7 linked regions of the Homo sapiens genome follow. The protein of the gene in region 7 purifies or fractionates together with the protein of the main gene of each other region. This does not show direct contact. Each region holds a gene or a part of one and is shown on either strand. Other genes may lie near its edges.

Region 1 (4,147 bases), on a different chromosome or scaffold from region 7:
TATTAGAATGACCAAAATCCAGAAAACTGACAACACCAAATACTGGAGATGGTGTGGAACAACAAAAACTCTTATTGTTGGTAGGAATACAAAATAGTTCGGGCACTCTGGAGGGCAGTTTGGGAGTTTCTTACAAATCTAAATATATTCTTACCATACAATTGGACACCCTGGTATTTAACCAAAGGAGTTGAAAAGTTGCATCCACACAAAAACTTGCATAGGATGTCTATAGCATTTTATTCATAACTGCCAAAACAGAAGCAACCAAGATGTCCTTCAGTAGGTGAATGAATAAACTAAGGTACATACAGACAATGGGATATTATTCAGTACTAAAAAGAAATAAGCTATCAAGCTATGAAAAGACATGGAGGAAAATTAAATGCTTATTTCTAAGTGAAAGAAACCCATGTAAAATGGCTACACACTGTATGATTCCAACCGCATGAGATTTTCCCAAACGCACAACTATGGAAACTGTAAAAAGATCAGTGGTTGCCAGGGGATGGAGGAGAGGGAAGGATGAATAGGTAGAACACAGAGAATAAGCTTAGTGCAGGGACACTATTCTGTATACTATAATGCTGGATACATGTCATTATACATTTGTACAAACCCATAGAATGCACAACACCAAGATGTGTGCACTCTGGGCTCTGGATGATGATGATGTGTCAATATAGGTTCATCAACTGCAACAAATGTACTCTTGTGGAGGATGTCGATAATGCATATGTACATATGTAGGGACGCAGTTATTTGAGAAATCTCTAGACCTTCCTCTCGATTTTGCTGTGGACCTAAAACTGCTTTAAAATATGAAGTCTATTAAAAAACAACAAATCCAGATAAACTGACTTAAATCTAAAAAATAAAACTGCAAGATTCTTAGGAGCAAACTTGGGTAGCTATCTTTTAAACCCAGGATAGGGAATAATTTATTTAAAAGGGCATGAAAAGCAATTACAGTAAGTCCTCACTTAACACTGCTGATAGGTTCTTGGAACTGAGACTTTAAGAAAAACAATGTGCTTCAGGTCCTTTAATAATGCTGTTTCGCTCAATATCATTTCTTTTCTTTCTTTTTTTGAGACAGGGTCTCACTATGCTGCCCAGGTTAGAGTGCAATGACACGATTCCAGCTCACTGCAGCCTTAACTCTTGGGCTCAAGTCATTCTCTCACCTCCACCTCCAAAGTAGCTGGGACTACAGGTGTGCATCACCACTTCTGGCTAATGTTTCATTGTTTATAATATCATTTCCTTAGAACACTGATGAGAAAAAAGAAACTGGTTTCATTATAAGTTATTTTGCTTAAAGTCAGTTTCCAAGAACCCGTCAATGACATTAAGTGAGGACTTACTGTATGATAAACAATGGACAAATTTGACTTAAGAATTTTTTTTATCAAAAGATGCACAGCAATGACAAAAACTGTATTTAGGATTCCGAGTTTGTAAACTTCTGAACTAGTAAACTGTTCAGAAGATTAATATTTTGCTTTATATCCAGTATTAAATCTGATCAACTCCAGCATTTTAATGGCAAGCTATGAAAATACCTAAATAACTGACTCACATAATCTTACGGAATATACTGCCCTTTAAACAAAAGAATAAAATATTATTAATGACTAATAATAAGTAGTTTGCAACAGAGAGGTATGGAATTGGAAAATAAGCAACTGATGAAGTGTATGTATAATTTTTGCTATTTCTTTGCTTCTGAATTTACTCATTAACTAAATCAACCTAGCATTTGGGTGCCTAGCATGTGTGAAGCAATACAATATTTTATACAACTTCCTATGGCTGTTCATTTGGATAGTTTACAAATCCCCAGGCCATAAACTATTAATATAACTTTACCCTTTCTATACCAAATGTACAATAGATATTAAATACAAGCCTGTTGATGATAACGATGTAAATTATTCCAAATATTTGCCAAAGAAGGTAGAGGCATTTAAAACTGTCCCTCCCACACAACTCCATAAAAGAAAGCGAAAAAGTTAGGAACTGAAAGAAGACATTCACAATGTACACAGAGGATTAACATAAGCAATATAAAGAACTCTTATAAACTAGTAAGAAAAACAAAAATAGGCAAGAGACATAAATAGGAATTTCACTGAAGAAGCCACGTAAAAAGGCCGACAAACATAAAAAGAAGTGTTCTACATCAGTGATAACCAGGAAAATGCGCATCAAGACCACAATAAGGCAACATTTTACACCCTTATGATTTGTAAAACTTAAAAAGAGAATATCAAGTGTTGGAGAGGATGGATAACCAAAGGATCTTTTATTTCATATATTGCTAATATGAATATAAATTGGTGCAACCATATTGAAAGTTCTGCATCATCTCTTAAGTTGAACATTCACCTACCCTGTGAGGCAGCAATGCTACCTCTAGGTATATAATAGGAACTGTGGCACATGCACAGTAGGAAACATGCAGACTGTCCATAGGATCTTTGCTTATAATTACAAACAAAACAAAACAAAAAATGGAAAATAACTGCCCAACAAGGGAGAGTGGATAAATATCCAAATATCCACCAAAGTAGAGTTAATGAATATTTTACTCAATGAAATATTATATAGCAATTTAAATAATGACTATAGCAACATGCAAAAATGTGGATAAATCTTATTTATAACAGGTGAAAAATCAAGTTCAAAAAGATTATATTCACAATTCTATACAAACAACTAAAAGATGTTTAGATTTATATGTCCAACTAAACTATACACAGTAGTCTCCTTTTATCCACCGAGAGACCTTCAGTAAATGCCTAAAACCACGAACAGTACTAAACTCTATTTACACTTTTCCTTTAACATACATACTTATGCTAAAGTTTAATTTATAAATTAGGCACAGTAAGCAATTAACAATAACTAATAATAAAATAGAACAATTATAACTATACTGTAATTACAGTTATGAGTGTGGTTTCTCTCAAAGTATCTTAGTACTTATAAATATCTTATAGTACTATACTGTACTCACCTATTTTTGGACCACAGTTGACCATGGGTAACTGAAACCGTGGATAAGGAGGGACTACTATATAAGGAAGAGAATGAACACAGGACTCAAAAATGATGACCTAGATGACAAGAAGGTGGAAATAGACGGATAGAATAGAGGAAAACTATACGTAGGTTAAAGTTCCTAGCTTGTTTTGAGAGAGGGGGAGTGGTGGTCCATGAGTACTTATTAAAATGATTGACAGACAGATAGGTGATTAATCCAATGCAGTGTGCCTGATGTTTAACAAATTTTTTAAAAATCCAAAAGTTGCATAAAATTTGTTCAATGAAAATTCTGAAATGGAGAACAAACACCTCCTTAAAGAATCCCTAAGGTAGCAACTACAGGGAAGGGAAAACAGTATGATTAATGTGTAAAATATATGATACTCAGGCCAGGCACAGACGCTCACATCTGTAATCCTAGCACTTTGGGAGGCCAAGGCAGGTGGACTGCTTGAGTCCAGCAGTTCAAAACCAACCCGGGCAACATGGCAAAACCCCGTCTCTCCAAAAAAATATAAAAATCAACCATGCATGATGGCTCACACCTATAGTACCAGCTACTTGGGAGGCTGAGATGGGCGAATCACTTGAGCCCAGGAGGCAGAGGCTGCAGTGAGCCGAGATCACGTCACTGCACTTCAAGCTGGGTGACAGAACGAGATCCTGTCTCAAAAATAAAAATAAAAATAAAATAAATAAAAAACTCTCAGCACATGTATTGTGTGGTATGTCTTCTATAATCAAAAATAAATTCCAAATTTTGTCATAACTACATTCCATTAAATTAAGGTACTTATGAGCCAGGGCAGTAAAACTTTCACCAATTTGATAAGTCACTGACAAATTTCTAAAAGAGATAAATCCTAACAATATTATGTAAGTCTTGTATATCCACTCATCTTTATGAGGCACTTCAACACTACCTTCACATTTAAGGTGTTTACTGTCATCAAGTACACTGTCCCATGCTTTCTTGATCTTCATTTTTTACAGGCAATATTTATGTATATAATGTTACACAAATTTCATTTTTGTGATTGCAAAAAAAAACCAAGTATGATAATAGAGCTAGTTTCAAACAAGATTTCATCAGATA
Region 2 (4,147 bases), on a different chromosome or scaffold from region 7:
CATCTCATCTAAATCTCATGGCTACATAAGACAGGCATAATTATCCTCATCTTACAGAGATACTGAGTTTTTCAGATACTAAATGATTTGCCTAAGCTCACACAGCTGACACGTAACCATGAATCATCCACTCACCTCCTCTTCGGGGGTTAGGTGCCGTTTACTGTCACTGACAGGGAAACCGCTGCCAAATTCTTTGGAATGGATGTCAGCTCCATACTCAACAGTCACATCTTCCTCAATGCTATTTACCAGCCTCCAGAACTCCTTCTCCACAAGTTCTGTGGGCACCATCTGGGGGAAGACAGGTAGCAGATGACTATGGCCCATCACACCCTGGACCCACTGATCCAGGTGAGCTGAGACCATCTGGCATCAATACCTATGATCCTAGCCCAACACTACCTCAGCCCTCCATCACCTACATGCACGGGCATGTTGAAGTAGTCAGCTTTAAAGGAGTCGGCCATCTCGCCAAAGCTCTGCAGAGTGTATTCCCGGGTAGCCTGCTCAAAGCCAAAGGCTTCTGGGGGCCGCTTACACTCCTGAAACCCAAAGGAGAACATGTCACCAAAACAGAGGCAAAGAGGTGAAGAATCCTCCCAAGTGGAACTGGAATATAAGGGGTAGGGAGGGAGAAGAGCCCTAGGTCTGCACTCAAGGCCCCTGAGGCAGGCCTTACTTTACAGCTGTACCTTTTGCTCTTACCACTTCGGCTTAGTCTTTTCATTCCCCATCATGCTTTTGCTCAGTTCCTCCCTACTGAAATGTCCTTTTCCACTTTCTTTCATTGGTTCCTCAAAACTCAATTCCAGTCTCACAACTTCCAGGGAGTCATCTCATGCTCTTTTCTTCCTTTAGGACTTTATCTAAATGGCTCTGACTTTAATATGCTATCCTGTGTTCTTCTGCCACCATTTTTCCTCTCTAGCTAAAATGTGATTCTTTTTTTTTTTTTTTTTGAGACGGAGTCTTGCTCTGTCACCCAGACTGGAGTGCAGGGTCACAATCTCAACTCACTGCAACCTCCGCCTCCCAGGTTCAAGCGATTCTCCTGCCTCAGCTTCCCGAGTAGCTGGGATTACAGGTGCCCGCCACCACGCCCAGCTAATTTTTGTATTTTTAGTAGAGATGGGGTTTCACCATGTTGGCCAGGCTGGTCTCAAACTCCTGACCCTGTGATCCGCCCGCCTTGGCCTCCCAAGTGCTGGGATTACAGGCGTGAGCCACCACGCCTGGCCTCTAAAATGTGGTTCTATGCAGGGTGCTTAGAGAAGGTTTTTTATGCCCAGACTAGAACTGTAAGGCTGGGAAAATGGCATTGAATATTCCAGTACCTTGAAAGATGGAAAACAGGGCCGGGCATGGTGGCTCATGCCTGTAAACCCAGCACTTTGGGAGGCTGAGGTGGGGTGGATCACCTGAGGTCAGGAGTTCGAGACCAGCCTGGCCACCATGGTGAAACCCTGTCTCTACTAGAACTACAAAAACTAGCCAGGTGTGGTGGCAGGCGCCTGTAATCCCAGCTACTCAGGAGGCTGAGGCAGGAGAATCGCTTGAACCCGGGAGGCAGAGGTTGCAGTGAGCAGAGATGGCATCACTGCACTCCAGCCTGGGTGACAGAGCAAGATTCTGTCGCAAGAAAAGAAAAAGAAAAAAGAAAGATGGAAAATGAAGACACTGGCTTTTACAGTATCAAACCCTCCACTAATCCTGTTCTTGAGACTGTCTCAGAAGATAGGATGTGGGTCTACCTCATTTTGTACCTATGTTCATTATTTTAGATGAGAACAATATGTACCCCAAAATCAGACACACACCATGCTTATGTTTGAAAAATAAATGTCCGTCTGGTCCACTGACTTATAACCACTTAGAGAAGAGAGTCAAGTAGAGTCGACAGTCTTGATACTGTTGGTATCCAAACTCCTCCCCAACTAGAATCTCCACCACTACCAAGGCCAATATGCACTGCCCTGATTTTTCCTCATCTGTGTATGTCTGTCTGTGTGTATGTATGCATGTGCACACCCGGTCTCTACAACCACAGTTGAGTCCCTAAGATAAGGCGAATGTCTGCTCTACAGAAATCCAGAGGGAAATGTAGAAGGTAAGTACCGAGAATTTGGGTGAAGGTAGGAAGTTCATGAAATGTACCTGCCCAACTTCCTGGCTGCTTGGCCCTTACTGCTGCTTCAGCTGCTCTCCTTACTGCCCCTATACCCATAGTAGGCATGCTCTCCTGCTATACCTCTGTTCCTGCTAGTCCTCCACCTCCCAGTCCTGAACAGCCAACCACCTCTCTAGTTAAAGCCTGTAGCACTGCCTCAATCTAAATATAACAAGAGGAAAACAACTAAATAAATATTATACCCATGATACACCATCTAAAAAAATTCCAGACCTTAATTAAACTTAGTAATATAGAGAAATGGTTATAAAGCAACAAATGAAAATATATAACAAGATCTCAAACTTGTTAAAGATAGTTACATATAAGTAACAGCAAAAAGATGAGAAAAAAATATATCAAACTATTAACAATGGTTATCACTGGGTGGTGGGAACACAAGTAATTTGCCTATTTTCCAAAATGTCTTTTTTTTTTTTGAAGACAGGGTCTCATTTTGTTGCCCAGGCTGGAGTGCAGTGGCATGATTTTGGCACACTGCAACCTCCGCCTCCTGGGCTCAAGCGATCCTCCCACCTCAGCCTCCCGAGCAGCTGGGACAACAGGCGTGCGCCACCATGCCTGGCTAATTTTTGTATCTTTTTTGGTAGAGACGGGGTTTCGCCATGTTGCCCAGGCTGGTCTCAAACTTCTGGGCTCAAACGATCCGCCCACCTCAGCCTCCCAAAGTGCTAGGATTACAGGCGTGAGCCACCGCGCCCGGCCTCAAACTTTCTAAAAAAGAAAAAAAAAAACAAAACAAAAACTCAGAAATTGAAAGAACATTTTTTTCTTAATATTCCTATCCTTCAAGTCTCATTTCTGACATTTTCCCTGATTATTACCCTTAGCTATTTTCCTCTCCTCTGAACTTCTATATCTCAGAGTTTCTAACACACAATTTAGCCTCTGTTTATATGTCACCACATATAGTCTAATTATGATGCTTACCTCTCCAGGTGGTCTGGGAGCTCTTAGAGGACAGAAGCAAAGGCTGAATCTCCTGCTCCTTTCTCCCAAAGCTCTGCCCAGCCTAATCCCACCACAGAGACCCAAAACCTAAGACTATGGCTGAGCTAAGAGGCTGCCCTCAATAAGGCCAGATGAAGGAAGGCAAGGAAGCCCTATGAGGCAGATGTGGAGTGGGGAGGCCTTACCGCCATGACACACTTTGGGCACCGCCAGACACCCTTGGGGATCTCAGGCAGAGGAGGCAGCAGGCAGAAGATGTGGTAGTTGTCATCACAGCCATCACACAGCAGGAGCTTGTCATCCTCATCCCCTCGAGAACACATCCGGCAGACATATGACTCAATCTGCCAGGGGAGAAGAGCAAAAGTTCTCCATTGGAAATCCACTGTGTTTGCTGGCTGAATGATTTACAGCCCTGTATAGGCTAGTCATGCTAGGTCTGGAGCTCAACTGCACGTATGTACCATCTCCCCAAATAAGCAGGTAGAGCTGCAAGAGCAGTCTTTTATCATCCAGTCTTGAATCCTCCCATTTTTATTCATCCAATAAACACTTACTAAACCCGTATTCAGAACTACGCTGGACTCTAGCACAAAGACAAGACATGGTATCCTTCCAAGTATATACAGTACTCTAGAGACATGTGTTCATAAAAATTAAAAATTGCCAATAGCGGTCCATAAAGGGCACTGTGGGAGCCTAGAGAAGGAAGCACTCAAAGCAGCTGGAGATAAGGAGGGATGGCCTTGAGAAAGGACTTCATTGAAAAGGTAACACCTGAAACTGGCTGAAACCTGAAGGCAAAACAAAACATGGCAACAGGGCAGAGCACAGGGGGAATCTCTTCCAGGCTGAAGAAACAACATGTGCAAAGGATAGGGATGAAAGAGCATACTGCATCTTACGGGGAAAAATGAACATACCTACAAGGAGTTCAGTGTGGCTATAGCAGAGGAGTGAGGTGGGCAGTGCTGGGGGATGAGGCTAGAGGTCAGCAGGGACTGG
Region 3 (4,147 bases), on a different chromosome or scaffold from region 7:
TGTGTGTGTGCAGGAGCAATCTGTGTGTGTGCAGGGGCAGTTTCTGTGTGTGTGTGTGTGCAGGGGCAGTCTGTGTGTGTGTGTGTAGGGGCAGTCTCTGTGTGTGTGCAGGGGCAGTCTCCGTGTGTGTGCAGGAGCGGTCTCTGTGTGTCTGTGTGCAGGAGCGGTCTGTGTGTGTGCAGGGGCAGCCTCTGTGTGTGTGTGTGTGCAGGGGCAGTCTCTGTGTGTGTGTGCAGGGGCAGTCTCTGTGTGTGTGCAGGAGCGGTCTCTGTGTGTCTGTGTGCAGGGGCAGTCTGTGTGTGTGTGTGCAGGGGCAGTCTCTCTGTGTGTGTGTGTGTGTGTGTGTGTGTGTGTGCAGGAGCAATCTGTGTGTGTGCAGGGGCAGTTTCTGTGTGTGTGTGTAGGGGCAGTCTCCGTGTGTGTGTGTGTGTGCAGGGGCAGTCTCTGTGTGTGTGCAGGGGCAGTCTCTCTGTGTGTGTGTGTGTGCAGGAGCAATCTGTGTGTGTGCAGGGGCAGTCTCTGTGTGTGCACGCAGGGGCAGTCTCCATGTGTGTGTGCAGGGGCAGTCTCCATGTGTGTGTGCAGGGGCGGTCTCTGTGTGTGTGGGCAGGGGCAGTCTGTGTGTGTGTGCAGGGGCAGTCTCTGTATGTGTGTGCAGGAGCAGTCTCTGTGTGTGTGTGCAGGGGCAGTCTCTGTGTGTGTGTGCAGGGGCAGTCTCTGTGTGTGTGCAGGGGCAGTCTCTGTGTGTGTGTGTGTGTGTGTGCAGGAGCAATCTGTGTGTGTGTAGGGGCAGTCTGTGTGTGCACGCAGGGGCAGTCTGTGTGTGTGTGCAGAGGCAGTCTCCGTGTGTGTGCAGGGGCGGTTTCTGTGTGTGTGTGTGCAGGGGCGGTCTCTGTGTGTGTGTGCAGGGGCAGTCTCTGTGTGTGCAGGGGCAGTCTGTGTGTGTGTGTGCAGGAGCAGTCTGTGTGTGTGTTCAGGGACAGTCTGTGTGTGTGTGTGCAGGGGCAGTTTCTGTATGTGTGTGTGTGCAGGGGCAGTCTGTGTGTGCGTGTGTGTCTGTGTGTGTGTGTGGCCTCTGCTCAGCTCCTGGGAAGGGGCTTCTGATCCTCTGTCAACATCAAAGGAGCTGGGCCTTGATAACCTATCTCAGCCTCCTGGTCTGAATGCAAAGCCATCGGACTCTCTTTCTGGGGCATTTGGTTATGTAAAGCCCTGCGCCAGGTTCCCAGAGTGGGTGCTTCAGCTTTGGGCAGCAGTGGGTCCTATCTCTGGGAACACCGACAGTGACTCCTTGTGTCAGGTAGGTGGGCGTCAGAGTGTCCTCATTTCATAAACAGGGACATTCAGAGGCCTTTGGCCCTTGCCCAACGTCCTGAGGCCAGAGAGCAGTGGAGTGAGCCTGGCTGTCCACAGGCTGTCCCACCCACATGCTCAGGATGCAGGGACTCACCGTAGGAAGAGGCGGAGAAGATGAAGGGCTGGCGGCAGTTGATGCAGACGTTGCCCAGGTTGTTGAGCAGCGGGTTGTTGGTGGAGCAGCGGTAGCACAAGGGCACCAACTCCTACAAAACAGCCACGGACTCCCGAGGGGCCGGGGCAGGCACGTGTCCTCCTCCCCCTGGACTCTGGCTTCAGGCCCCTGGGGCCTGGCTGCCAAGAGGAAAGGCCACCCGGGTGGGCAGGCAGGGAAGGGGCGCCGGGCCCAGGAGCTCCATGCCATGGGGAAGCAGGATAAAGGCCTGCCGAAATACCCAAGCCCTGTCACTTGGGTCCCCGTGCCCAAGACACCTGCACAGGCAGCGCTCAACGGCACTTTTCCCCTGGCAGGAATGACAGTGGCCGCTGCCACCATTAGCCAGCCATTTACCATGCTCCGGGCACCGTGCGGAGCACGTGGACTATACTGGCTCATTTAGCCTCACAACTACCTGTGGGAAAGGGGGAACCCAAGGTGCAGAAAGATGGAGACAGAGCTAGGAGAGGGTGGAGCCGGGATGTGAACCCAGGTCTGTCTGAACCAAGTCCTTGCTCTGAGCTTGAGGGAGGATGTGTGAAAGAAGGAAGCTGGCTGGGTTGAAGGAATGTGGGTTGGGAGTGTGGGGTAGATTTGCTGGAGAACTACAGCCTGGTTCCAGAAAGGGCAGAGGTTTCTAGAGTAAGAGTCAGCTCTGGGGCCAGGCCTGGGGTAAAGGCAGAGCCACCTGGGCACAGAGGTGTGGGGCTTGCCTAGGGGAGGGCAAGGAGCAAGGGAGGCCAGGCTGAGGGCTGAGGCCGGGGCCGGGGGCTGTGAGCGGGCGCCAGGTGGACTGCGGGGAGAACAGGAGGTGGACAGGGAAGCACAGGGGAGCTGGCATGGCCAGGCTTGAGCAGGGGGCACAGAGCCTAGAGGGAGCTGCAGCTGTCTCTCTTCAAACGGAACCCAGGCCAGGCAAGAAGGCATGAGATGGCCTCAAGGGAGAGGAGAAGCCACCTGCCCAAGGGTGCTGCATCCTCACCTCACTGTCGTGGAAGGGCTTGGCGCGGATGGTCAGGGTACCCAGCTCAATGGACTTTTGGAATCTGGCAGGGATGTACAGGCCACGCAGCTTGTCATAGGCGTGCCGGGCCAGCCTGTAGGCACCGAGGGCCTTGCTCTGCTTGGCCAAGGTGAAGAGTATTTTCCTGCCGTGAACAGGGTTAAGGACAGCAGGGGCAACACCAGGCCCAGGAGCTGGCACTGCCTGTCCTTGGAGTGAGCCCCAGGCTGGAACACAGCTTGTGCTGGTGCCGGGAAGGCAGAGGAAAGACCGTGAGGAAGGCTCTGTGCGCTTGTGAGAGGTGAGTGTACTTCTCGGATGGCAAGGCCCAGGAATTTTTCCAAAGATAAAAACAGCGTAGTTTCCATTAATACTTTAACCTTGCTTAGCATCTCTGGGCCTGCTGATGGCTCATCTTATACCCTGACTAGGCCAAAATGGCTCTTCCTGCCTCACCAAACCTGCCAGCCAGGCCCTCCTAGGATGCCTGGCACAAAGGGCACTCTGCTCTCACCCTGCCAGGTGGGGCCTGGTCCAGACTCCCTGGGGAGCCACCCTCAACCCTGCTCTGAGGCCCCTGGGTGTACCCCACTCTGTCTGCACACCCTTCCCCGAGGGCCTGGTGGGCAGTTTCTGAGCGGCAGCCTGTGCTCTGGGGCCCCCTTGAAGCTCCTCAGCCAGAGGCTGACGAGCCTTTGTGCTCTCCTCTCAGGTCACCTCCGATGTTGGCTGCCCCCAGGCCCTCCTGCCCTTCCTCCCGCATCTCTCCCAGTGTTCCTGCTCCCGCCGTCTGCAGTGCAGCCCCGTCCACTTCAGCAGTTCTGTGGAGAGTTTCCTTCTGTGTCTCCAGCATGACTCCTCAAAGTCAGGGACTGTCAGGAGCCATTTCCAGGTCCCCAGGGGATGGCACAGGGTAAGGCTCAGGGTAGAGGTTCTATCAAGCTGTTGACTCAAACAGAACTTGCTGGAAAGGATGAGTACAGGTGCTCAGCCCCCACAGGCATAGCCCTGACTGCTCCTACGGGGAAAGACGGAGACGCATGCAGCAGAGGTCTGACTCCAGGAAGGCACCCCTTGATTTGAGGGTATTTCCCCTGAAATGTACATAATGGGCCTGGAATCCTCTAGCGAGGCCAATTCTTACAACAAGGAGCTCTGGGTCTTCTCCAGTGGAGTGGGTTTTCCTTACAGAGGGAAGGTGGGGCTGCGGCTGGGAAGGAGCTGAGAGTACAGTGAGATTTAGAAAAGAACAGGGACAATTATGTCTCCTGACATCCAAGACCTTAAAAATCTGGATCATTGCCTGGTAATGATCCAGTATCTGGCTGCACAGGCCCTTCAGGCACCTGCTCTGCTTATGGTACCACTGTGGCCCTCGATGGCTACAGAAGAGAGGAAAACCCAAAGGTAGGCTCTCAGGCCTTGGGTCCTGCTGCCTCTCCGGCCCCTCCCACCCAGGGTCCCCTCACCCTCTCCCACATGCCTTGCTTGCCTCTCCATATGCTGGGTCCTCCCCTGGAACATCCACTTGGCCATCTTCCCTGGCTGCCTCAGCTTGCATGATGGACATCTCCTCCTCCAGGTAAACTTCCCTGACCATGGCCCTGACCTCAGCTTCATTCCACCCTCAG
Region 4 (3,584 bases), on a different chromosome or scaffold from region 7:
GCGGAGGTTGCAGTGAGCTGAGATCGCACCATTGCACTCCAGCCCAGGCGACAGTATAAGACTCTGTCTCTAAATAAATAAACAAACAAACAAACACCATTCTATAACATCCTCTGTGTTATAAGCACCATAAACACTACAAGGTAGGGGTTCTTAAAACATCAGAAAACTCTTTGAATTCTGAAGAGTGAACATCACTGACTTTAATACACACCTGTAAAACCCTTGTACCTTGAATGTCCCTGATAGAGGAGGGTCCTCCCCCACCAACTCCATCAGTCACTTGTGGTGGCAGCGAGGCTCAGGCAGCACTTTCTGAAGAAAGGGATGGCAATAGCCCATATCCTACTAGATGGGACTAAAATTAACTCTGATCATCCCAAAACAGTTGAGTGCCTCCTAAATAACCACTAGAAATAGCTCAGAACCACGCAGGAGGCAGCCTGGCTCCCAGGCAGCTTCCAGAGGGTTCTGGGCAGGAGTCTCAGAATGTGGAAAAACCGTCTGCAAGTGATGACATGTGGGAAAAGGGTAGGGGTTTAGGTTTTTGGTTTTTTTCCTACTGTCTCAGCAGGGGAAAAAAATGAAAGGTTCTGCTCTCACCTCTAGCTATTCCCTCCTCTCTAACACAGACATGAAATAAAACAATCCTAAGTACTTGACCTAGCCAAGTCTGTCTGAGGGGGATGGACTGGAGTCTAAGGGAGGGAAGCAGCCAGTTGAGTATCTGACAAACACCCTGGAACCTGAGCAGCTCGGAGGAATACAGGGCTGGAGCCCCTCACACAGACCAGAGGTGGGGGCTGGGCCAGGAAGCCCCTCATGTGGACAGAGGTGGGAGCTGGCTGGCCATGGGATATTTGGGGACTGCTGGCAGTGAGCCAGCCACGTGTTTGACAGCAGAGTCTTGCTACAGACAGAAGGGAGGTCCCTGAGGAAGCCACCCTCCCCCGTCTTACCAGATGGAGCAAGCTTCAGAGCCCTAGGCCCACCCCTGGCAGGGCCTGCTTGTAAAAGGAACCCCAGAATGGCCAAGGCTAGACTTCTCTCCAACTGTGGCAAGTGGGGTGCACACATGGAAAAATGAGGAAACCAGGTATTTCTCACACTTAGCACACGGGAACAGTTCACAACATCCAAGTCAGGATAACTGTTTACTAACAAAGGTGCTTTAATTTGAAAAGCATTTGAGGAAATAAATTAATGAAATAGTCTGGCCATTTGACTAACCAGTTCTACAAATTTCACATATCCGTCACTCAGATGAGCATATACCAAGTCAGAGGAAACAAAACATGCACATATACAAAAGTAGAAAGAGAAAACACTCATGCCTTCAGAAGTTCACAAATTAAAAGCCCTTTAATAATATAAAACAGTTGAACACTGGAATGTTTTTTTCTAGGTCATGAAAAAAGTGAATTCCAAATCTATGTAATAAATCTAAAATAATACAGCATCACTGTCTTCTGTTCTGGTGTTTATCAAACCTGCACATGAGTTTTTAGAAGGTGAATTGGGGATGCTTCAGAATGTATTTTCTCCAAACAGATGGAGCCTGAAAACTGTGTGATTTTCCAAACCAAGTGGAGAAAAGCAGGAAGAAATTGGTGTTTAGCTGGTCAGCAGACGGGGATCCCCGGGATGCAAACAGCCTTGGCCATTAGGAGCCTCGCCTGGAACGGGGCCCCCACAAAGCTCCTGAGCCTGGGCCACATCACTCAGGCTCCTGTTCCCCATCTCCAGGCTCGCAGCGGACAGAACTCCACTTTCTGAAGAAACAAGAAGGTAACTGTATCACGTGCTAACAACTTAAGGTTCTAAAATACTTTGCTTCTCACTTGAAGAAGTCCTAGAACAAAAGCCTAAGGTGAGGCCCTCAGAAATCCAACTGGCAATGTCCCGGAAGTACAGATCCTGCCAAGGTGGGGATCTAAGCCCAGGGCCATCAACCGCAGCTTGGTCCAAATGCTCTGAGCAGTGGTTTTGGCTCTGTGGCCAGAGCCTTGTCTGAAGAGCCCTCGGCCCCGCCGGCTGCTAGAGAATCACTCTCAGCATCTGTGGCCTCATCCTCCCCTTCGGCCCAGTCAGACCATCACCAGCTGCATTCCTCAAACCATCTTTGAGGGTTCCGACCCCTTCTGCCAGGAGCTCCCATGACACCTGCCCACCCTCCAAGGTCCAAAGCCACACCCTGAACCCCAGTGGTGTCCAGAGGCCTCGGGACAGAATCAAACCCCCTCTCACAGGTGACAGGTCAGCTATAGGCCCTGACATTTGTGTCCAAGACAGCATGGGGGAGAGAGCCTCCTTTTCCTCCTTTTGACCTAGGAAGGCAGCCTGGGGACCTCGTTATTCCAAGTGAAGTCATGTGGGGTGGAGGGATGCTGAGAAGCCTCACCTGGCTTGTTTACTCGAAACACCTCTTCCCATGTATAGTCAGCAAGATTCACAGGCTGTGTTACCCACGGGTCTGTCACCAGCTTCTCCAAGGTGGTGCGTCTCTCAGGGACTGGCTGCAGCAGCCCAGACACAAGGCTCATGAGTTCTGGGGACACAAAGAACACAGATGGTAGGTCCAGATTGGGATGAAGTGGAGCACATCTCAGATTCCTGGGTGCTCACCACCCCCCCGCAGAGCCTCTGACTGGGCAGGTGGCGGCCCAGGAACCTCTAGTGCAGGGCCCAGCTGTGCTTGGACAGAAGCTGCAGGAAACATTCATTGCCTCTGAAATGAAAGCTTGGAGTTCAAGATGCCATCCCACTCAACCAAAATCCAGGTGGTGCAGAGGTTCCTAACTGCTCTATTCTCAGGGGCTCTGGCAATGCAGAGCTGTGAATAACGCAGGGTTAACATGACAGGTGAGGGGATGCCAGCACAAGCTGAGAGAAGCCCCCAGCCTTGCATCTGGATTCGGGCCCCAGTTCCTTTAACCATGTAGGCACCAAGTCAACAGGGCCACTTGGAGCCTCCCTGTCCTGACTGCAAGTGTGTTTCTCACAAGAGGGCCTCTAAGATCCAAAGAGGAACATTAACAAAAACTAAATTATCAAGATGTTTTAAAGTCATATGCAAATTATTTGATGAATAGAAAAGAAACAAATGAGACTGTTGATATGGACAGAGATACACTGAGGAATGAGGAAATGGGAAAAAAAAGTGGCTGGTCTCTAAGGACAGTGTCGACTGTCTACCACTTGCAGCTCACGCTCACCTTTGGACACCAGGTATGGCGGGTGTATGGCAGCCTCCACGGTCTCCTCCAGCTCACAGAAGGGGTTCTCCTCAAAGACCAGCGTGTACAGAGTGACTCCCAGAGACCACATCTCCAGCTCCGGCCCTCTGTAGCTGTGAGGAGGAGGAGGCATCAGGACGCCACGGCACTCAGCGCAGGCTTGCCAAGCCCGCCCATGGGAAGCACCATGGCCCTTCCCGACCAGCACACAGGCCAGGCAGTGGTTTCCCAAGAGGAGGGTCACTCCACCCCTCAAACACGCCCTCCATTTCCACGCACTTCTGCCCCAGGCCAGCCAGCAGGCCATGTGCCAGGAGTGGAGAGGCCATCGGGCAGCTCCGAGGCTAA
Region 5 (4,147 bases), on a different chromosome or scaffold from region 7:
TGGTCTTGAACTCCTGACCTCAAGTGAGCCACCTACCTCGGCCTCCCAAAGTGCTGGGATTACAGGTATGAGCCACCACTCATGGCCTTGATTTTGTATTTGCACAAAAGGTGGCACAGGCCAGGCACGGTGGCTCACGCCTGTAACCCCAGCACTTTGGGAGGCCGAGGCAGGTAGAGTTCGAGACCAGCCGGCCAACATGGTGAAACCCCGTCTCTATTAAAAATACAAAAATTAGCCAGGTGTGGTGGTGGGCACCTGTAATCCCAGCTACTCGGCAGGCTGAGGCAGGAGAACTGCGTGAACCCAGGAGGTGGAGGTTGCAGTGAACCGAGATGGCGCCACTGCACTTCAGCCTGGGCTACAAAGCAAGACTCCATCCCAAAAAAAAAAAAAAAAAAAAAAGAAAGAAAAAAAAAAGGTGGCACAAAGCAGCAGAAAGCATACAAGTTTGAAGACAATTAGGTTTAAATGAGAATGCATAAGATATGCTTAGCATAGCTTCTCACAAGGCACAGTCACTCAACAAATATTACTTCTCTCATTCTCATAACTTTTCTCTCCATTACACTATCAATTACCTTGAGAGCAGAAGTCCTATCTTTTCATCTCTGTAGCCTTTCTGAAAACAAAGTAACTAATACAGTTTACCATCCTGGTTAAGGGTTTGGGCTCTTGAATCAGACTGCTGGAGTCCAAATCCTGACTCAACCATTTATTAATTATGTGACTTTTAACGGGTTACTATCTAGGACTCAGCTTCCTCATGGGTAAAGTGGGAAGAGAAACAGTACTTAACTGAGGGTTGTGAGCATCGAATGGATTAAGGTATGTAAACTGCTCACAACAATGTTCAAGTATTATGGATTACAGCAGGCAGGAATAAAAACTCACTGAATGAATATGAATACTCAACATATATGAATATAAGGACTAAACTGCAACTTTTTTTTTTTAGATGGAGTCTCCCTTTGTCGTCCAGATTGGAGTGCAGTGGCGCAATCTCAGTTCACTGCAACCTCCGCCTCCCAGGTTCAAGTGATTCTCATGCCTCAGCCTCCTGAGTAGCTGGGATGACAGGCGCCCACCACCGCGCCCGGCTAATTGTTGTATTTTTAGTAGAGACAGGGTTTCACCAGGTTGGCCAGGGTGGTCTTGAACTCCTGACCTCAAGGGATCTGCCCACCTCAGCCTCCCAAACTGCTGGGGTTACAGGCACAAGCCACCGCGCCTGGCCTTCAACTATAATTTTAATATCCAGAACAAACTCTTAGAAAATCAGAAAATAAAAAACATTTTTATTTATCTCTTATTTTCCAATATTCAAAGGAGATTCATCAATGCAACATAGAAAATAATACACAATTTGTTCAATTGGCTTTTCAATCATAGTCTATACCCTCAATCATGAAAAAATATAGCCTATTCACCTGAAAACATTAATATAAACCAAAGACAACTGAGCAGTTCCTACCCTCTTAAATATACAATCTAAGCTGCTAGGGAGATTTCCATTATCACAATTTTTATATTCAGAAAGAACATTGAATTAACTTAAAGCACATTATTTGTTAAGTGTATAGGCAAGGTATAATGAAAGAAATATTGCATCTGGAGTAACAACAAACTGTTGTATCCCAGTTTTACCATGAGACACTGGTGAAGTCACTTATTCCTTCAGGTTCAGCTTCCTTATATGTGAAAGAGGCTCTTTTATTCCAATTATTGAACATGTACTTTGTGCCAAATCCTGTGCTAGGAATTGGAGATTCAGGTCAATAAGACCAATTTCTGACTTCAGAGAGACTGCAGTCTAGTGTGTCAATGAAAGATGAGGAGGAGATGGCCAGATTAGTATAATCAGTATGAAGACAAAATTCATTGACCTGTAGATACCATAATAAAAGTGATTGCACTATACAATTAAAAAAAAGAGAGAGAGAACAGCTCATTCTACTTGTGAGTGAGAAACTTCATCTTAAAAGAGGACAAAATTTTGCCAGCCTACCTAGCTTATTTCTTCTTCCACCGGCACAAGAAATGGCAGGTGCAAAGGCAGGGAAATAAAATGCAACCGAGTTTTAGAAGATAGTTTTGAGTGAACTGCAAATAGCTGGCAGCAGCATAGATTTGAAAAGGTGGAAACAATGAATGATGACACTGGAGAGGGAAACAAAGGCCTAAACATGGATGGTTTGGATGTCACATTGAAAGATCTTTGCTTCATCACACTGGAGGAAACAGGGTCTTTAAAGGGAGAAATATCACTCGATCTATACAGTACAATGGCATCACTGTAGAGTGTTTTGATGGGATATGTGACTGAAGGAAGGAGAATAGGTAGGAAACTATTATAAAAGTCCAAATGAAAAATAATGAAATAGTTCAGGCATGATGGCTCATGCCTGTAATCCCAGCACTTTGGGAGGCCAAGGCAGGAGGATTGCTTGAGGTCAGGAGTTCAGGACCAGCCTGGGCAACATAAGGAGACCCCGTCTCTACAAAAACTAGCTGGGTGTGGTGGAGCATGTTTGTGGTCAGCTACCTGGGAGGCTGAGATGGGAGGATCGTTTAGAGTGCAGTGGCCATACTCACACCACTGCACTCCAGTATGGGCAACAAAGTGAGACCCTGTCTCAAAAAAAGGAAACAAAAAAAAGAGAGAGAGAAATAATGAAATATAGAAGAACATCATGGGTCAGATACAAAAAATATTTAAAAGCTAAAAACCACAAAACCTGGCAAAGAAATGGTTACTTTAGGCAGAGAAAGAGTAAGAATTTACCATCTGGAGGGAAAACAAGTAGCATGGATGCCACCATCCCCCACTCCACATCTAACAGACACTACCTCAGAACTCTTCTTAGCCCAGCACTCTAGCAAGGCATAGAGTTCATGAGTGAAACAAAACCTACCTGACATCCCTGTCTTCTTATGATACTGCCTGTGGCTGGGCATGGTGGCTTACAACCATAATCCCAGCACTTTGAGAAGCCGAGGTGGGCAGAGCACTTGAGGTCAGGAGTTTTGAGACCAATCTGGCCAACATGGCGAAACCCAGTCTCTAACAAAAATATAAAAAATTAGCCAGGCGTGGTGGCGCACACCTGTAATCCCAGCTACTCAGGAGGCTGAGGCAGGAGAATCGCTTGAACCTGGGAGGCGGAGGTTGCAGTGAGCCAAGATCGCGCCACTGCACTCCAGCCTGGGAGTGACAGAGCAAGACTCCATCTCAAAAAAAAAAAAGGAATGATACTGCCTGTGAGATGGTGTGAAAAATAAAATTGTTTTTTATTATTTTAAAATATAATTGCTTTGCTGATACAATAAAGTCAATAACTTTGAGTGTAAAGCGAAAGAACTGTCCCAGAAGAAAAATTCCTTGCCAAAACAACTAACTCATCTCTCCCATTGATTTTATTTTATTTTTTTTTGAGACGGAGTCTCACTCTGTCACCCAGGCTAGAGTGCAGTGGCGCAATCTTGGCTCACTGCAAGCTCCGCCTCCTGGGTTCACGCCATTCTCCTGCCTCAGCCTCCCAAGTAGCTGGGACTACAGGCGCCCACCACCACGCCCAGCTAATTTTTTGTATTTTTTGTAGAGACGGGGTTTCACCGTGTTAGCCAGGATGGTCTCGATCTCCTGACCTCGTGATCTGCCTGCCTTGGCCTCCCAAAGTGCTAGGATTACAGACGTGAGCCACTGTGCCCAGCCTCCACATTGATTTCCGTGCTCTCCATTCTGGGTCCCTATGGGGTAGCCAGAATGATCTTTCCAAACACAAATCTGTTTCATCTTACTTTCTCACTTAAAACCCTACAATTGGCCAGGTGTGGTGGCTCACGCCTGTAATCCTAGCACTTTGGGAGGCTGAGGTGGGTGGATCACCTGAGGTCAGGAGTTTGAAACCAGCCTAGCCAACATGGTGAAACCCCGTCTCTACTAAAAATACAAAAAATTAGCCAGGCGTGGTGGCAGGCGCCTATAATCCCAGCTACTGGGGAGGCTGAGGCAGGAGAATCACTTGAACCCGGGATGTGAAAGTTGCAGTGAGCCACCAAGATTACAACATTGCAGCAAAACTCCATCTCAAAACAAAAACAAAAAACCCTATAATGGCTATCTACTGCTCTTAGGATAAAAACC
Region 6 (4,147 bases), on a different chromosome or scaffold from region 7:
CTGGGCCTCAGTTTCCCCATCTGAACAGTGGAGGTGAGTCCCAGCTCTGCCCCACCTCTCCCAATGGATATGAAACGTGTTTTGTCAACGGAGTAAGTTCATGTGTCACGTCACTAGAGGGTTGTCCCTCAAAGGGTAGAGAAAGCAGTGGGGATCTAGCAGCTTTTGAGGACACGAAGCAGGCCCAAGAGTATCATTTAGGGAGAGTCTGGGCCTGGGGGTTACACACAGAGAGAACTTGTAAACAAAGGCAGGGGTCCAGGGTAGAAAGAGAAGCTTAGAAAGAACAGCTCGGCCGGGCGCAGTGGCTCATGCCTGTAATCCCAACACTTTGGGAGACCAAGGCAGGCAGATCACCTGAGGTCAGGAGTTCAAGCCCAGCCTGACCAACATGGCGAAACCCCATCCCAACTAAAAATACAAAAACCAGCCGGGCATGATGGTGGGCACCTGTAATCCCAGCTACTCGGAAGGCTGAGGCAGGAGAATCACTTGAACCCGGGAGGCAGAGGTTGCAGTGAGCCAATATTGTGCCATTGCACTCCAGCCTGGGCGACAGAGCAAGACTCCAGCTCAAAAAAAAACAAACAAAACAAAAACTTGAGGCCGGGCGTGGTGGCTCACACCTGTAATCCCAGCACTTTGGTAGGCTGAGGCAGGTGGATCACCTGAGGTCGGGAGTTCGAGACCAGCCTGGCCAACATGGTGAAACTCTGTCTCTACTAAAAATACAAATATTAGCCGGGCATGGCGGTGGGCGCCTGTAATCCCAACTACTTGGGAGGCTGAGGCAGGAGAATCGCTTGAACCTGGGAGGCGGAGGTTGCAGTGAGTCAAGATTATGCCACTGCACTCCAGCCTGGGCGACAAAGCAAGACTCTGTCCCCCACCCCCCCCAAAAAAAAGGCCGGGCGTGGTGGCTCACACCTGTAATCCCAGCACTTTGGGAGGCCGAGGTGGGCAGATCACGAGGTCAGGAGATCAAGACCATGGTGAAACCTCGTCTCTACTAAAAATACAAAAAATTAGCCGGGCGCAGTGGCGGGCGCCTGTAGTTAGTCCCAGCTACTCGAGAGGCTGAGGCAGAAGAATGGCGTGAACCCGGGAGGCAGAGCTTGCAGTGAGCCGAAATCACACCACTGCAATCCGGCCTGGGCGACAGAGCAAGACTCTGTCTCCAAAAAAAAAAAAAAAAGAGGTGGGGCGAGGTGGCTCACGCCTGTAATCCCAGCACTTTGGGAGGCCAAGGCGGGCAAATCACCTGAGGTCGGAAGTTCGAGACCAGCCTGACCAACATGGAGAAATCCCATCTCTACTGAAAATATAAAAATTCGCCAGGTGTGGTGGTACATGCCTGTAATCCCAGCTATTCAAGAGGCTGAGGCAGGAGAATTGCTTGAACCCGGGAGGCGGAGGTTGCAGTGAGCCAAGATTGCGCCACTGCACTCCAGTCTGGGCAATAAGATCGTGTCACTGCACTCCAGCCTGGGCAATAAGAGCAAAACTCCATCTCAAAAAAAAAAAAGGACAACTCAAGTATCTGGGGTGTTTAGCCAGGGGACAGGATATGGGGTGGCCTTGAGTAGTTGACTTCTAGGCCTTTTAACAAGCTGTTTCTTCTGCGTTCCTCAACTTGTCTACTTGGCCATAAGTACTCCCGTGTAAGTCCTTCAAGGCCAAGACACCACCTCCTCTAGAAAACATTCCTTGGGCCGGGCATGGTTGGCTCACGCCTGTAATCCCAGCACTTTGGGAGGCCAAGGCAGATGGATCACCTGAGGTCAGGAGTTTGAGACCAGCCTGGCCAACATGGCAAAACTCTGTCTCTACTAATAATACAAAAATTAGCCAGGCATGGTGGTGCAGGCCTGTAATCCCAGCTACTCGGGAAGCTGAGGCAGGAGAATTGCTTGAACCCAGGAGGCGGAGGTTGCAGTGAGCTGATATCGCACCACTGCACTCCAGTCTGGGCGACAGTGCGAGACTCCATCTCAAAAAAAAAAGAAAAGAAAATATTCCTCGATTCCCCAAGGCCAGGTGAGAGGGCTCCATCCAGAGCCTGCATTTCCTCTTCTCAGCTCTGCTCACAATGGAATGGGGTCAGTCGGCCCTGTAGCAGTGCTCTGTGGAGACAGGCACTGGCCTTTCCAGCTCTCACTGTATCTCGGTGGGATACAGCTTCAAAGCCCATGCTCTCAGATTATTTGTTGATGATGATTTGGCTGCTGCTACAAGGAGACAGATCTCAGTGCAAGATAAGAAAATTAACTTTTTTGGCCGGGCGCGGTGGCTCACACCTGTCCCAGCACTTTGGGAGGCCTAGGCCGGCAGATCACAAGGTCAGGCGATCGAGACCATCCTGGCTAACACGGTGAAACCTTGTCTCTACTAAAAATACAAAAACAAAAAATTAGCCAGGTGTGGTGGCGGGCACCTGTAGTCCCAGCTACTCGGGAGGCTGAGACAGGAGAATGGCATGAATCCGGGAAGAGGAGCTTGCAGTGAGCCGAGATCGCGCCACTGCACTCCAGCCTGGGTGACAGAGCTCAGAGTCTCACTCTGCTCGGAGTCTCACTCTGTTTGGAGTCTCACTCTGTCACCCAGGCTGGAGTGCAGTGGCACAATCTCAGCTCACTGCAAGCTCCGCCTCCCAGGTTCATGCCATTCTCCCACCTCAGCCTCCCGAGTAGCTGGGACTACAGGCGCCCGCCACCACACCCAGCTAATTTTTGCAAATTTTTTTTTTTTTTGAGACAGAGTTTTGCTCTTGTTGCCCAGGCTGGATTCCAATGGTGCCATCTTGGCTCACTGCAACCTCCACCTCCCGGGTTCAAGCAATTCTCCTGCTTTAGCCTCCTGAGTAGCTGGGATTATAGGCATGCACCACCAGGCCCGGCTAATTTTGTATTTTTTAGTAGAGACGGGGTTTCTCCATTTTTGTCAGGCTGCTCTCGAACTCCCGACCTCAGGTGATCCACCCACCTCGGCCTCCCAAAGTGCTGAGATTACAGGCATGAGCTGCCGTGCCCAGCCTAATTTTTTTTTTTTGAGACGGGCTCTCTGTTGCCCAGGCTGGAGTGCAGTGGCGCGATCATGGCTCATTGTACCCTCAACCTCCCTGGGCTCAAGCAATCCTCCCACCTCAGCCTCCCAAGTAGCTGGGACTACAGGTACGTACCATCATACCTGGCTAATTTTTTTATTTTTTTATTTTTTTTTGAGACAGAGTCTCGCTGTGGCCCAGGCTGGAGTGCAGTGGTGCGATCTCGGCTCACTGTAGGCTCCGCCCCCCGGGGTTCCCGCCATTCTCCTGCCTCAGCCTCCCGAGTAGCTGGGACTACAGGCGCCCGCCACCACGCCCGGTTAATTTTTTGTATTTTTAGTGGAGACAGGGTTTCACCGTGTTAGCCAGGATGGTCTCGATCTCCTGACCTCGTGATCCGCCCGCCTCGGCCTCCCAAAGTGCTGGGATTACAGGCGTGAGCCACCGCGCCCGGCGATTTTTGTATTTTTTGTAGAGATGGAGCTTTGTCATGTTGCCCAGGCTGGTTTCAAACTCCTGGACTCAAGTGATCCACATGCCTCACCCTCCTAAACTGCTAGGATTATAAACATGAGCCACTGAGCCAGACCAGAAAACTCTTTCTTTTTTTTTTTTTCTTGAAAGAGTTTTGCTGTGTCACCCACGCTGGAGTGCAACAGTGCAATCTTGGCTTACTGCAACCTCTGCCTCCCAGGTTCAAGCAATTCTCTTGCCTCAGCCTCCCCAGTAGATGGGATTACAGGCATGCGCCACCACGCCCGGCTAATTTTTTTTGTTTCTAAAGATGAGGTTTCACTATGTTGCCCAGGCTCGTCTAGAAATCCTGGGCTCAAATGATTCGTCCACCTCAGCCTCCCAAAGTGCTGGAATTACAGGCTTGAGCCACTGTGCCCAGCCAAGAAAACTTTCTTTTTTTCTTTTTTTTTTGAGACTGGGTCTCAAAAAAACTCCTGAGCTCAAGCAATCTTCCCACCTCAGCCTCTCAAAGTGCCAGGATTATAGGTGTGAGCCACTGCACCCAGCAATTTTAGTTTAATTTTATTATTTTTTTTCCAAGGAAATTATTATTATTATTTTTTGAGATGGAGTCTTGCCCTGTTACCT
Region 7 (4,147 bases):
TGGGGGAGGTGAGATGTCCCCCCAGCTCCCTGCCCATGGAGTTCTGCATTGGGGGAAGGATGGGGGCCACGCAAGGACCCCTCACAGCAGCACACCCAGGTGACAGCCAGGTGCAGCCGCCCCGAGTCCCAGCAAGCACCTGGGAGACAGCGGGCCTTGACACTGCCCACCCGCTCTGGCCCAGCAGGGGTGGAGGGGGCCAGGGCCGCACCCCAGGGGTCTCCGGAGCAGAAGGAACAACTTGATGTTGGCAGGGTGGGTCCTGGCGGGCCAGGCGGGGTGCCCAGCACTGTTCCTCGGCGCTAGGCCTCCACATCGGGACCTGGCTCCTGGAAGAGCGACTGCTTCCTCAGGCTGAGCCGGGCACACTTGGGACAAGTGGTGGAGTTGTCGTAGTAGCAGTCCCTGGGGGCAGAAAGAGGTCGGGGCTCTCTGCACAGGAAACTCCAGCACTGAATCCCCCCAAGCGTCCTAGGTCAGCTCCTATCATCCCCTCTACAGCCGTTACCAAAGGGCAGAGTCGGAGTCTGCAGCCAGATGCAAGTGACTGTATGGCCGTGTGCAGAGCGCTTACGGGCGTGCAGATGTGGACCTCCAGGGGTCCTCACGCTACCTGCTATCCCCCAACCACACAGGTCCCAGTTCACACAGCTGAGGGGCTGAGCCAGGTGGCCACGCCAGACTCGACTCAGAGCCCTTCCTCACGATTCCCACCTGTTCCTATCCCTCCCCTGGCTCCCAAACTGTACATCACGGCACCCTGGGGCACCGCAGCCTAGTTCAAACTTTTAAACAGAACGTAGCAGTAATTAACACCTGTCAGACACTGAGCAAACGACTAGCTCGAGCGAGTTCAGTCTCAACCTTAGTTTCTGCCACAGTCCCATCTGTGTGACACCATCGCTCTGTAGAGCTGGGATTTCAGCAGTTGCTATGAAAAATAGCAAATTCCAGGCAAAAATCAGGGGACAGAAACTGGGGGGGAGTGTCCATCTGATTCCAGGTCTGGAAGATGTGTGAGGCCCAAAAGGTGTACCCATATCATTAGTAAGTAATCATACTTACTGAAGAATGAAATTAAAATATTTTTCTTCTAATTTGTGTACATTATTTTTCCAAGAGCCACTCAATCTTTAGGATACAAATACTTATAAAGTTGTTTGAACATAAGTATTTTTCCCTGTTGGTCTAGCGGCTAGGAAAAAAAACGCGAGAGCATAAGTACTTAATAAATCAAAGTGTTAGGAATTTCTTCTGGCTTAGAAACACTTTGAAAAAATTACTGAGACATTAAAGGGTGGCAGGAACTATAGGTTTGGGAATCTCTAGCCTATACTAACCCTGAAAGAGTGACTTCAATCCTAGTAGAGAAAGGGAGCAGCTGGGATGCTGTGAACACATCAGAGACCAAGCTGGAGTTTCAGGGGCTGGTCCGGGAGGGACCTGGGAAGGGGCAGCCCCCTCATCCCCCAGGTGCCGCTCCTAAGGGAACTTCTCATTTAGTCACAGACATCAGGGTCTGACTTCATATCTCAGGGTCAGCAAAGACCCAAAGAGTCTTTATGTCTCCCCTTTCTCGGGGGAGCAGTGCCAGCTCCCACGGCATCATCCTACCGGAGGCCAAGGGGCAGCTCCCCAGAGGACAGCGCAGAGCCCCAGCCCCCGAGTGCGGGGCCCAGGCCACACCCACCTGTGGAAGACCGCGGAGCAGTCGGCGCACACAGACGTGTGGCTGTCGAACGGGAACAGCACGTCGCCCTCTCTGCAGAGCTCACACACGAAGCCCTTGGCCTGGCACCGCTGGGGGGAACAGTGTGGGGTTGGGGCACGGGCACGTCAGTGCCAGCTCCTCTGGGCACTCTGAGGCCAGGGACACACTGGGCTGGGCTGCTTCTCCTGCCAATCCCCCCTCAGGGCTGGGGTTGGAGAAGAGCGGCCCTCGGGCAGAGGCCCACCTCGCAGTCCAGCTTGATGTGCTTGGCGAAGAGCGTGTGGATCTCGGTGAGCGAGCAGCCCAGGCGGCCGGCATGCACGTCCAGGAGGTCCTGGACAGAGTACATCTCGTCGTTCTCCACAAAATGCTGCCGATCCTGGAGCTGCCAAGTCCCAGCAGCCGTGACGCCCTGCACCGGGGAGGGCCCCTCCCACCGCCCACCCATGGTCGCTGCAGTGGTCAGGGCCCAGGTGCTCACAGAGAAACGAGCTACACAAGGGTCTGGGCCCCAGGAGTAGAATCCAGGAGCCCCAGGAAGCCGACAGGGGAAGATGGACCCGGGCCACGTTTCCTGACCTGTGTAGCCCCCCGCCCTCCACTCCCTAAGGCAGCCCCTCCCAGCCACACCGCATCCCCGCACTCCCCACGCTTCCCACATTCCCCACCCTTCCTTCTCTATCTTGTCACAGAGTTCACCACCCCAGCACACAACGTATTTTTCTTGTCTTCCCTACTTGAAAGGCACTAAGGGCAAGCATTCCTGTCTGTTTCGTTCACTGTTCCAGAATCTAGAACATCTGTATCTGTTGAGCACATAATTAGATGAACCTTGAAAACTGTGTTTTGTGGTCAACCTGCCTGACGAGGGCTGGGCTGGACCCACCCCATGGAGATTCACATAAGGGCTGCAGGGTTTGCCAAACGGAACTGACTGGAGAACTCTTTTGTAGGCAGAACACCTGTTTGCTTTGTTCCTTGGGACCGTGGTGAGGCGACCCTCTGCTAAAGGCACTCCACGCACAAGCTGTCCGGAAAAAACCTGAGCCTGAGGTGCCTCACCACCCTGGCTGCGCTTCCCATCGGGGGCCAGTCCTGCTGGCAGTCTGACCTGCAGCAGCAGACGAGCCTCCATGGCCTCCCTGCAGGTGATGAAGTACGGCTTCATGAGCAGGATGTCCTGGCGCAGCTTCTGCAAACAAGGCGGGAGCAGGCAGGCCTCCTCAGCCAGGACACAGGGCGGCCCCTGTGTGGGCCGCACACCCGGGGCCACGGCAGGGCCAGGAGGGGTTGGTTCCCCACGAAGGGCCGAGATCTGAGTGCTTCACCAAAACCCAAAATCACAGCTCCCAGGCTGGGCAGGACCGTGAGGCTCACTTACCGTGGTCCAGAAAACCCTCCCTTCCCTCTGCCCTCACCCGGCCCCACAGGCACACAACTGTCTAGGAACCAGCAGCCTCAGGACCAAGCCAAACTTCCGGAGAAATCCCAGCTGCCTCCCCAGCCCTGGCCTTGGCAACTCAACGTGCTGCCACAGTCTCCTCCCGGGTAAAATGGGACCTGCCTCCTTTCACTACCTGGCGTGAGACGCCATCATGTCCTGCCAGGACTGCAGCTCCCGTCTGCCCTCGGCTCCCGCCCTACCTCCTCCCTCACCGCTGGCTAAGAGAGTGGCCACCAGCCCTGCACAGCCACAGAGCACCTCAAAGTGGCCGCTGTGCAGTGAGACTTAGCAGAGGCTACATGCTGGAGCCAAAGACGTGGCACAAAAAAGAAAAAGAAAGCAAATATCTCAAAAATGTACATTGATTTCATGTTGAAATAACATTTTGGATATATTGGGCTAAATAAAATATACTATTAACATTAACTTCACTTGTTTCTTTTTACTTTTTTTTGAGACAGAGTTTCGCTCTTGTTGCCCAGGCTGGAGTGCAGTGACGCGATCTCGGCTCACAGCAACCTCAGCCTCCCGGGTTCAAGTGATTCTCCTGCCTCAGCCTCCCGAGTAGCTGGGATACAGGCACACACCACCATGCCCGGCCAATTTTGTATTTTTAGTAGAGATGGGGTTTCACCATGTTGGTCAGGCTGGTCTCAAACTCCCGACCTCAAGTGATCCACCCACCTCAGCCTCCCAAGTGCTGGGATTACAGGTGTGAGCACCGTGCCCAGCTCTTTTTACTTTTTTAACGTGGCTATTACAAAATTTAATATTGTGTTCACACCTGGCATCAGATCACTACGGGACACCGCTCCAGCACCTTCAACCAAAAGGGCAGCCGCGGCGCCTGGCTCACCCTAAGCAGGTGGCCTCCCTCCTCTGCTCAGAACCTCCCGTGGCCCAGAGGAGAAGAGGGTACTGGCCCGGCCCTAGGGCCCACCTGACACAGCGCCCCCGCCCCCCACTTCCATGGCCCCAGCCTCACGCGAATC

Evidence for each region.
Region 1: the proteins of DEF8 (region 7) and PKN2 purify together in Homo sapiens (affinity purification with mass spectrometry; 2 studies listed by BioGRID and IntAct, with this or other methods). This does not show direct contact.
Region 2: the proteins of DEF8 (region 7) and KDM5C purify together in Homo sapiens (affinity purification with mass spectrometry; 2 studies listed by BioGRID and IntAct, with this or other methods). This does not show direct contact.
Region 3: the proteins of DEF8 (region 7) and IFT122 purify together in Homo sapiens (affinity purification with mass spectrometry; 2 studies listed by BioGRID and IntAct, with this or other methods). This does not show direct contact.
Region 4: the proteins of DEF8 (region 7) and PASK purify together in Homo sapiens (affinity purification with mass spectrometry; 2 studies listed by BioGRID and IntAct, with this or other methods). This does not show direct contact.
Region 5: the proteins of DEF8 (region 7) and ZMYM6 purify together in Homo sapiens (affinity purification with mass spectrometry; 2 studies listed by BioGRID and IntAct, with this or other methods). This does not show direct contact.
Region 6: the proteins of DEF8 (region 7) and PKN3 purify together in Homo sapiens (affinity purification with mass spectrometry; 2 studies listed by BioGRID and IntAct, with this or other methods). This does not show direct contact.

The regions. Positions count from the first base shown.
Region 1 is NC_000001.11:88,690,656-88,694,802, reverse strand, and holds part of PKN2 (serine/threonine-protein kinase N2), read right to left. Parts: intron 3,080-4,147; exon of another isoform or gene 3,023-3,079; intron 1-3,022. UniProt on the Homo sapiens protein: PKC-related serine/threonine-protein kinase and Rho/Rac effector protein that participates in specific signal transduction responses in the cell.
Region 2 is NC_000023.11:53,211,362-53,215,508, forward strand, and holds part of KDM5C (lysine-specific demethylase 5C), read right to left. Parts: intron 3,487-4,147; coding exon 3,328-3,486; intron 546-3,327; coding exon 426-545; intron 295-425; coding exon 136-294; intron 1-135. UniProt on the Homo sapiens protein: Histone demethylase that specifically demethylates 'Lys-4' of histone H3, thereby playing a central role in histone code. Does not demethylate histone H3 'Lys-9', H3 'Lys-27', H3 'Lys-36', H3 'Lys-79' or H4 'Lys-20'.
Region 3 is NC_000003.12:129,512,903-129,517,049, reverse strand, and holds part of IFT122 (intraflagellar transport protein 122 homolog), read right to left. Parts: intron 2,662-4,147; coding exon 2,496-2,661; intron 1,563-2,495; coding exon 1,451-1,562; intron 1-1,450. UniProt on the Homo sapiens protein: As a component of the IFT complex A (IFT-A), a complex required for retrograde ciliary transport and entry into cilia of G protein-coupled receptors (GPCRs), it is required in ciliogenesis and ciliary protein trafficking.
Region 4 is NC_000002.12:241,104,952-241,108,535, forward strand, and holds the end of PASK (PAS domain-containing serine/threonine-protein kinase), read right to left. Parts: exon of another isoform or gene 3,516-3,584; intron 3,350-3,515; coding exon 3,216-3,349; intron 2,549-3,215; coding exon 2,402-2,548; intron 1,773-2,401; coding exon 1,615-1,772; 3' UTR 1,148-1,614; downstream 1-1,147. UniProt on the Homo sapiens protein: Serine/threonine-protein kinase involved in energy homeostasis and protein translation. Phosphorylates EEF1A1, GYS1, PDX1 and RPS6.
Region 5 is NC_000001.11:35,025,084-35,029,230, forward strand, and holds part of ZMYM6 (zinc finger MYM-type protein 6), read right to left. Parts: intron 1-4,147. UniProt on the Homo sapiens protein: Plays a role in the regulation of cell morphology and cytoskeletal organization.
Region 6 is NC_000009.12:128,708,356-128,712,502, reverse strand, and holds part of PKN3 (serine/threonine-protein kinase N3), read right to left. Parts: intron 1-4,147.
Region 7 is NC_000016.10:89,962,119-89,966,265, reverse strand, and holds part of DEF8 (differentially expressed in FDCP 8 homolog), read right to left. Parts: coding exon 4,141-4,147; intron 2,904-4,140; coding exon 2,823-2,903; coding exon of another isoform or gene 2,445-2,822; exon of another isoform or gene 2,355-2,444; intron 2,097-2,354; coding exon 1,956-2,096; intron 1,801-1,955; coding exon 1,691-1,800; intron 406-1,690; coding exon 303-405; 3' UTR 1-302. UniProt on the Homo sapiens protein: Positively regulates lysosome peripheral distribution and ruffled border formation in osteoclasts. Involved in bone resorption.